Linked DNA regions of Homo sapiens: all the other regions are linked to region 2. The links come from fine-mapping of genetic effects on gene expression. A gene starts in region 2. Each other region holds a variant in brackets. All regions are shown on one strand. Distances are between the middles of the regions.

Evidence for each region.
Region 1: its variant is fine-mapped to the expression of NUP54 in whole blood (TOPMed, PIP above 0.99). The same link has a PIP of 0.9 or more in blood mononuclear cells.
Region 3: its variant is fine-mapped to the expression of NUP54 in monocytes after LPS (Quach 2016, PIP 0.95).

Annotation. Positions count from the first base shown.
Region 1 is chr4:76,122,178-76,124,946 of GRCh38, reverse strand. NUP54 (nucleoporin 54) reads left to right here. Exons shown (of 12, transcript NM_017426.4): 9 at 191-298. Among named protein-coding and RNA genes, the nearest start is that of NUP54, 25 kb to the left of the region's middle. The variant A/G (reference allele first, on the strand shown) is at 1,144.
Region 2 is chr4:76,146,705-76,149,473 of GRCh38, reverse strand. It overlaps NUP54 (nucleoporin 54), which reads left to right and starts at 1,077. Exons shown (of 12, transcript NM_017426.4): 1 at 1,077-1,166. The coding sequence starts at 1,100. It overlaps LOC124900718 (a long non-coding RNA gene), which reads right to left and starts at 925. Exons shown (of 2, transcript XR_007058144.1): 1 at 872-925; 2 at 1-267. RefSeq lists an enhancer at 968-1,127.
Region 3 is chr4:77,133,945-77,136,713 of GRCh38, reverse strand. No RefSeq gene overlaps it. Among named protein-coding and RNA genes, the nearest start is that of CCNG2, 22 kb to the left of the region's middle. The variant C/TACAC (reference allele first, on the strand shown) is at 1,628.

The DNA.
Region 1 (2,769 bases), 25 kb after region 2:
GATTCTTTTAAAAAAATTTTAGGTATGTAAAAAGGGAAGAAATATAAAGCACAGATTTATAGGGAAAGAGTTTATATTTTGAGAGATGAATCTCAGGCTTATCCCAAGATTAGAATTTCCATACAGGTGTAACTGATAAATAGTTGTGATATTTGATTAACCCTCCCCCCCCCAATTTTTTTTTAAACAGATCATATCTGAAGATATTAGTGAGCTACAAAAGAATCAAACTACATCTGTAGCCAAAATTGCACAATACAAGAGGAAACTCATGGATCTTTCCCATAGAACTTTACAGGTAGTAATTTGGATTTTCCCCCCCAGTGTTTATAAGACTATGTGTGTGAAATAATGTACTAAATATAGATTTTTAAAATAGAAAAAAAAATACTAAAATGAAAGAATAATGTGAAATTACAAGTACCGAATTCTTTCAGTAAAACTTTGAAATTGGAAAACAAGTCTCATAGGTTTGAGTGAGGAGAATAAAAATATCCTAAAGTTCGTATTTTAGTGACAGTTTGAGGGAAAGCAGTGAAGAAATAAAGCATCTTAGTGCAAGGGAAGCTTCTGTGAGATTATTGATGTCTCATAAATTTCATAAAATAGTTTCATAAAATAGTTCAGAAAATTTTTTGAGTGCTAGAAAAAGGAGTGTAACCATAATGGTCGAAAAACAATAGAATTTCCAAATTAACAGGAGGAATTAAAAGAATAATAACAACTGAAATTATAAACTATCATGAAAACAGAAATATTACATACCAGAACCAGTGGGAAACAGCAAAATCTGTACTCAGAGGAAAACTTACAGCCATAAAAAATTCTCATTTAAAAAAATCAAATGTGAAAAATAAAGGAACTTAGTACTCATGTTAAATTAGAAAAGGAATATCAAGATAAGCCAAAAGAAACTAAAAAGAAAGAAAGATAAATGTGAAATTAGTGAAAGACTAAAAAATGTAATAGTGGAAAGAATAAATTAAAAAACTGTTTCTTTGAAAAGACCGTTAAAATTACTAAGCATCTCATCAGCTGGAAGAAGGGAAAAACAGAGTAAAATATACAAAATTAGTAGTGGGAAAAGAGGCATCACCGTAGATATACAAAACAGAATAAGAAGATACTGCATGGGCCGGGCAC[A/G]GTGTCTCACTCTTGTAATCCTAGAACTTTGGGAGGCCGAGGTGAGTGGATTGCCTGAGCTCAGGAGTTCAAGACCAGCCTGGGCAACACGGTGAAACCCCATCTCTACTAAAATACAAAAAAATCAGCCAGGCATGGTTGCTTGTGCCTGTAGTTCCAGTTACTTGGGAGGCTGAGGCACGAGAATTGCTTGAACCTGGGAGGCGGAGGTTGCAGTGAGCCGAGATCACGCCACTGCACTCCAGCCTAGGCTACAGAGCAAGACTCCATCTCAGAAAAAAGGAGAAAAAAAAAAGAAGATGCTGCATGTACTTTAGGGTAACAGATTTGGAACTCAGAGGAAGTTTTATTTTGATTTTTCTATGAAAATGAAAATTACCAAAATCTACAGAGAAGTAAGAAAACAAATACCACAGAAACAGTTGGAAAAATGAAAGATGAAACATGAAAAAGGCCTTAGGGACAGATAGTTTCATTGCCAAATTTTGTCTAACCACAAAAGAGCTAATCCAGTGTTATTTTGATTATTCTAGACAATTGAGGAATAATTTATACAGCTTCATTTGTTCTTTTTTCACAGCTTAAGATAATTTGCATACCATACTATTTACTCATTTAAAGTGTACAATTCAATGGCTTTTAGTATATTCAGAGACTTGTATAACCGTTATTACCACAATCAATTTTAGAACATTTCTGTCACCCTACAGACAAATCCCGTACCCATTGTCAGTCACTTCCCCGTTTCACTGCAAATCTGTCAGTCCTATGCAACCAGTTTTGCCTATATGGGTTTGCCTGTTCTGGAAACCTCATATAAATGGAATCATAACGATATATGGTCTTTTGTGACTGGCTTTTACTTAGCATAATGTTTTCAAAGTTCAACTGTGTTGTACCATGTAATAGTACTTCAGGTACTAATAAATGATTATTATTCATTTATTGCTGAATATTCCATCATATGGCTATACCACATTTTACTCAATTGATGGACATTTTGGTGGTTCTCCTTTTTGGCTATTATGAATAATATTGCTATTAAAATTTATTTACAAGTGTTTGTTTGGACATATACTTCTATTTCTCTTGGGTATAAACCTAGGAGTGAAATTGCTGTGTCATATGCACACTATGTTTAACTTTTTGAGGAACTACGTAAACTGTTTTCCAAAGCAACTGTACCATTTTACATTTCTGTTTGTAGCATCTCAAAAAAAGAAATTATAAACAGCTATTTTAAAGAGATGCAAATTATGCTAAGTGAAAAAAGCCAGACTTAAAGGCTGTGTAAGGCATGATTCTATTTATATAACATTATACAAAAGAAAATTAGGGACAGATAACAGATTAGTAGTTGCCAGGGACTGTAGATGAAGAGAGAAGTGTGACTACAAGGGGCTTGGGGTGATGGAAATATTCTGTATCTTAATCACTGTGGTGGTTACACGACTGTATGTATTTGCCAGATTCATAGAACTGAACACCTAAAACAGGTGAATTGTCATATGTAGAGTATACCTCAAATCGGACCAAAAAACCACATTCTAAATGAAGTATAAGCAAAGAGAATCCAGCTATTTATCAATTTCTTAAAAAATATACTATGACCAAGTAAAGTTTATT
Region 2 (2,769 bases):
TATGGCAGCCAGAGGGATCTTCTAAAAACAAAATTCTAGTCATACTAGTCCTCTGCCTAAAACCCCTTAAAGGTTTCCCATTACCCTCAAGAAATAGTCTGAAATCCTTACCATAATTTACAAGGCAATATAATATAATGGTAATTTTTACAAATTGGGACTCTGGAGTGGAGAAACATGAGTCCAAAACCAGACTCCAGAACCTACCTGCAAGGTGACTTTGGGCAAGCTGCTTAACAACTCCAAACCTCAATTCTCTCATCTCACCTGCAAAATACAGTTACAGAATCTTCTCTATTTATTTATTCTGAGGATTAAATTATATTACAAGTACAACAGAGGGGGCCCACTCTTCCCCTCTTTTTCAGTGCTCCCCTTAGAGCTGTGGTTAGGAGTATTTACTCTGTAAACAGCCTGACCCTTTGGTACCTGTTTCCTCTTTTATAAATTGGAGATAGCAGCAACCCACCTCATAAGATAGCTGATTAAATTATGTAAAATGTCTAGAAGAGTGCCTGGCACATAGTAAACGCAACGTGTTTGCTACAATTCCATTCGCTTTCATTTCTTCCAACGTGCATCCTCTTTACTGCTTCTGCTCCGTCTACTCATCCTTCAGCACTGGGTTCAAATACCACCTCCTCGTGGGTGTTGGGGGGGTTCTCAACCCCAGCCCTGCTGCCCGACCTCCCAGGCCCGCTAGTTGATGAGGCAGCAACTTCAACCCTACCACATACAAATTCTAGCTGTCTACCGCGTATCCCTACAGTAACAACTTCAGCCTCTGCACACCTTTCCCAAAGAACCTCCCTACGGCAGTTTTTAAAGGACTCTCAGGCGGCACACCCTCGCGAGCGTCCCAGCATTTTACCTTAACAGTGACACCCCACAGCATGTGAAGCCCACCGGAAGTGAGCTGGCTGGGGGCGTTCCCTCACAACCACCCACCTCCTACGCCCTTGGCGCCTTCCGGCCTCTTAGGCTAGGTCAGAAAGGAGGCGGAACTCGGTGATCTGACTGGCGGTTTCCCGGCCGGACTGAGAAGGGGAGCGCGCTGCGCGTCGCAGGAGTAACCTACTTGGTCTCCTGCTTTCGCGACATGGCCTTCAATTTTGGGGCTCCCTCGGGCACCTCCGGTACCGCTGCAGCCACCGCGGCCCCCGCGGGTGAGTGATCCCCCTAGACCTTCACCCGGGAAGAAGGGGAAGGGTCTGGTCCGCCCCCTCTGTCCGAGACTCTCCGACCTGGGGATCCTGGAATCTCCCGCCGACGCGGAGACTTTAGAGGCATTGGAAAAGGGCGGGCGGCGGCAGAGTGGGCCGAGGCGGCACCCGAGGAGGCCACGGGGGTACTCGGGGTCCCACTAGAAGCTCGCTTGCCGCGCGTGAGTTTCCACAGGGCCCTGGCTTGAGCGGTTCGCTTCCCGCTGCCGGGGAGTCCTACTCAGAGAAATTGGAGGTTGCTTCCCTCTCCCCTTGCCCGAGAACCTCCCTCCCCTCTGCACCTCAGCCTCCTGGATGGGCGGGAACGCTTGCGTGGTTCCCGCTGCCGGACTCGGCGAGGATAGGGCTGGGGATCCACCGGCACTGCCCATTGACTCCCTTAGTTCCACCCCCGGCCCCCTGTGGTCCTCGCTGTGGGGTTTATCCGTCATGCTTCTTCCATCTGCCCCACCCCACCCCCACTCTGCTTTCTTAAACTGTTTGGAGCAAAACCAGGTTTGTTCACTTCTGTGAAACCTCCTGCTGATTCTTCTAATCCTTATCTTGCTTTCTTTTCTTTTTCCCTCTCCCCCTTTTTAAAATTTTGTTTCTTTGCCTACACGCCTATCAGGATTTGGTGGGCTTGAGACTGCCAACTCCACCGCCAGTGGGTTTAATTTTGGGGGTTTCGGATTAACTGCTAATCCTGCAGTGAACTTTAATATTGGGAATTTCGGTGTTTCTACTACCTCGGCGACTCCGTTCAATTTTGGTAACAGTCTGGCAAGTGCAGGTAGATACTGCGGGTTGTATGTGTAACCAGTGTTGGGAGCTGGAGTCCAAGAATATTGTGGTTCCTGGAGTTTGGGAAAGAACAGTTACTTGTCTAATAGGGAAAGGAAATTTATTTCCTTATCTCGAATCAAAAACATCTGTATCAAGTTTTTACTGCCTTAAAAGATGTGGTTTAGGAAAGTTTTGCAAGTTACAGTGTTCCTTTATTAAATGTGCACTTATCTTCCAAATGATAAGCATTTGGATTATAATTTTGAATAGATCTTTAAAATTATTAGGTAGGACTTCCAAAGTATAAACTCACCACCAGTCAAGCCCATCCTGGGATTCTTGGACTCCTGCAGTCATTTTTCATTTTTTCTGCATCTTTCATTGAGATTTCATTTTATTGTCCTTGTGTTTCCAAAGAGAAACAAGTCTTATACGAACAGCAGTAACCTGTTTTGTTTTTTAACTTGTGTTATAATGATAATAATGTATTTCTTTGGTCAACTCAGCAGATTAGGATACTATAAGATGTGTAATTTCTATAAGATTTGTAATTATAGAAAGAATCCCCAGTTCTTTGCTGGAATTTTGGGAAATGCTCAAAGAGAGCAGTTTAGTTTTATGTGATATAGCATCGAATTCTAAAAGGTAAGCTAGACGTCTTTGCATTCAAAAAGATAATTATGAAGATTTTCATATGCACGTGGGTTGTTTGCAGCTCATTAGAAATTTTGCAAAACAATAATGATATATACATTTAAAATAGGTTTATGGGTACTTTACA
Region 3 (2,769 bases), 990 kb before region 2:
CAGCTGATTTTTGTATTTTTAGTAGAGACGGGGTTTTGCCATGTCGGCCAGGCTGGTCTTGAACTCTTTACCTCAGGTGATCTGCCCACTTCGGCCTTCCAAAGTGCTGGGGTTACAGACATTAGTCATGGTGCCTTGCCAAGCACATTCTTAAAACTTTGTTTTTACTGCTACTGCACTAGTGACAAAATACAATGACTTCTAGTATGGTCTGGTGCCACTGCCTTGAGTCGTACTCAGATGCCAGATTTTTTTTTTTTTAAATTTAAGAGACAGGGTCAGTCTCACTGTCTTGCCCAGGCTGGTCCCAAACTACTGGGCTCAAGTGATCCTCCCACCTCGGCCTCCCGAAGTGCTGGGATTACAGGTGTGAGCCGCCATGCCTGGCCAATGCCAGCAATTTTAACCACCATTTCTTTACACCATGAGTACAAAGGTCAATGAAGTTAAATAGTAAAAGATCATATCATCTTAGTATTATAGTAAAAATAATTTTGACCTCACCGACTCCAGAAAGGATCTCCCCAAACTCACATAGACCACTCAAAACTGCTGCACATGACAAATGAAAAAATACCAGGCCACAGTGTTCTTTTGAAAAGTTTGCATGTGAGTCAGGACCACATAAATGTGAAAGATTGGACCTTTCTCTCCTGTTCTAAAAAGAGATTTCCCCAGATCACTATGCTGGATACAAAAAGGAAAATAAAAAAGGAAAGAAAGGGAGAAAGGAGGATTTATTGAATGTTATATTAAACAAGACAGTCATGTCGATGGTCCCTCCTGGGGAGGCAGCACTCAGCTGCCATGATCTATCATGAGACCATATGGACCCTCCATAACACCCACCATCCACATCATCTCCTAGCCATGACTTTAGACTGAAGACATTCAATATAATGGCTCATAGAAACCAGGATATTATGAGGACATTAATGCAAGAGCTCTTCCAAAACAGATATTATCTAGAGAAATCAGACTCTTTCTCTTCAAAGTTTAAAAGAGCAAATATAAAAAAGAACCAGCCAGATGTAGATGACACACAAGCTGAGAGGGGAAAAAACACTTAGAGAAAATGAGGGTAGTCTGAGCTATGACAGGTCATCAGCACACAAAAGTTATAAGATGAAACTATAAGAAGGAGACATGGCTGGGCACAGTAGCTTATGTCTGTAATCCTTAGCAATTTGAGAGGCCAAGACAGGCCAATGGCCTGAGCCCAGAAGTCTTCAAGACCAGCCTGAGAAACATGGAAAAACACTGTCTCAAAAAAAAAGGCGCGCGCGAGAGAGAGACAATGAGTAAGAAAAAACAGAAAACAATGAGGTAGAGAAAAGAGACTGAATAGAAGGTGGACAGGAGAGGCAGAAGCAATAAAGGTGGAGACAAAGAGGAACCAACCCACTATAATTGTTAATTGTGGAGGGTCAGCAAACTTTTGCTACTGAATGATTAGCTAGAAAATTCAGGGCTTACAGGCTGGGTGCCACAGCTCATACCTGTAATCCCAGTGCTTTGGGAGGCCAAGGCAGGAGGATGGCTTGAAGTTGAAGTCAGGAGTTTGAGACCAGCTAATATATATATACACACACACACACACACACACACACATACACATACACACACA[C/TACAC]ACATATATACACATATACATATACATATACATATACATATACATATACATATACATATACATTGAGCTGGGCATACTGGCATGCACCTGTAGTCTCAACTACTGGGGAAGCTGAGGTGGGAGGATTGCTTGAGCCCAGGATTGGAGGCTGCGGTGAGCTGTGATTGGGCCAGTGCACTCCAGCCTGGGTGATATCGTCTCAAAAAAAAAAAGAAAAAAAAAGAAAAATTAGGGCTTAGAACTGCAATGCCAGGCCTTAGCTTGTAGGTGAGATTCTTTTTGTCTATGTATATCTTTCTGAAAACCCACTATTAAAAAACAAAACAAAACGAAAACTTGAGTGAGCCTCTGTTCTTGGTATCCAATGGCATCTAAATCATATTTACTGGGAAAGGCAACCTGCCAGGTGCTTTCACATCACTATCTCGGTTTTAAACTGTTATTTTTCAATTTAAGCATATGTACCGATAATGGTTCCAAACATCAGCTGCGATGGGAGATAACAAAGTTGACATGGTTTTTATGTTCCATAATCCATATGGAGGACACAAGCCCAAGGGAACTGTATAGCTGAAGAATTTGTCGATTTTTCCTCCTCTTTCAAAAAGAGAAAAGGAAGTGAACTTCATAGCATTAGGGTGATAAAGAGGAGAAAATGGTGTATCTAGTTGGGAGCCTCTTAGTGACAAAAACCAAATCCAGTTGAATTAAGTGAAGCAAACAAGGAGAATTTATGATATGACTGCAGCGGTATCTGATGGAAGCATAAGGGACATGTGGGCCTGATTTCCTCTGTGCCTCCCATTTGTGTTTCTCTCTATGTAACCATCACATTCTTCTGTCCATGCACCCCAGCTTACTCTGTTTCCCTGTCTGCCTGGCAGAATAAGGCCACACACAACTCACAAGTGTGTAGATTACTGATCTGTCTCATAGGGAAATTGAATCAATCTCCCTCCTTCTCTTTCTTCATCCTTGCCTCTACTCCTTATCCACCTCAATTCCAAATTTGTAGAGTAAGTGCTCAGATTGGTCCAGCGTTGGTCAATAGTCACTCTTGGTACAATAAACTGCAGCTGGGAGGAAAAGTCAAGGAACCATCTTATACAAAATGGAAATGATGATGTGGTAGTGTGGGGTTG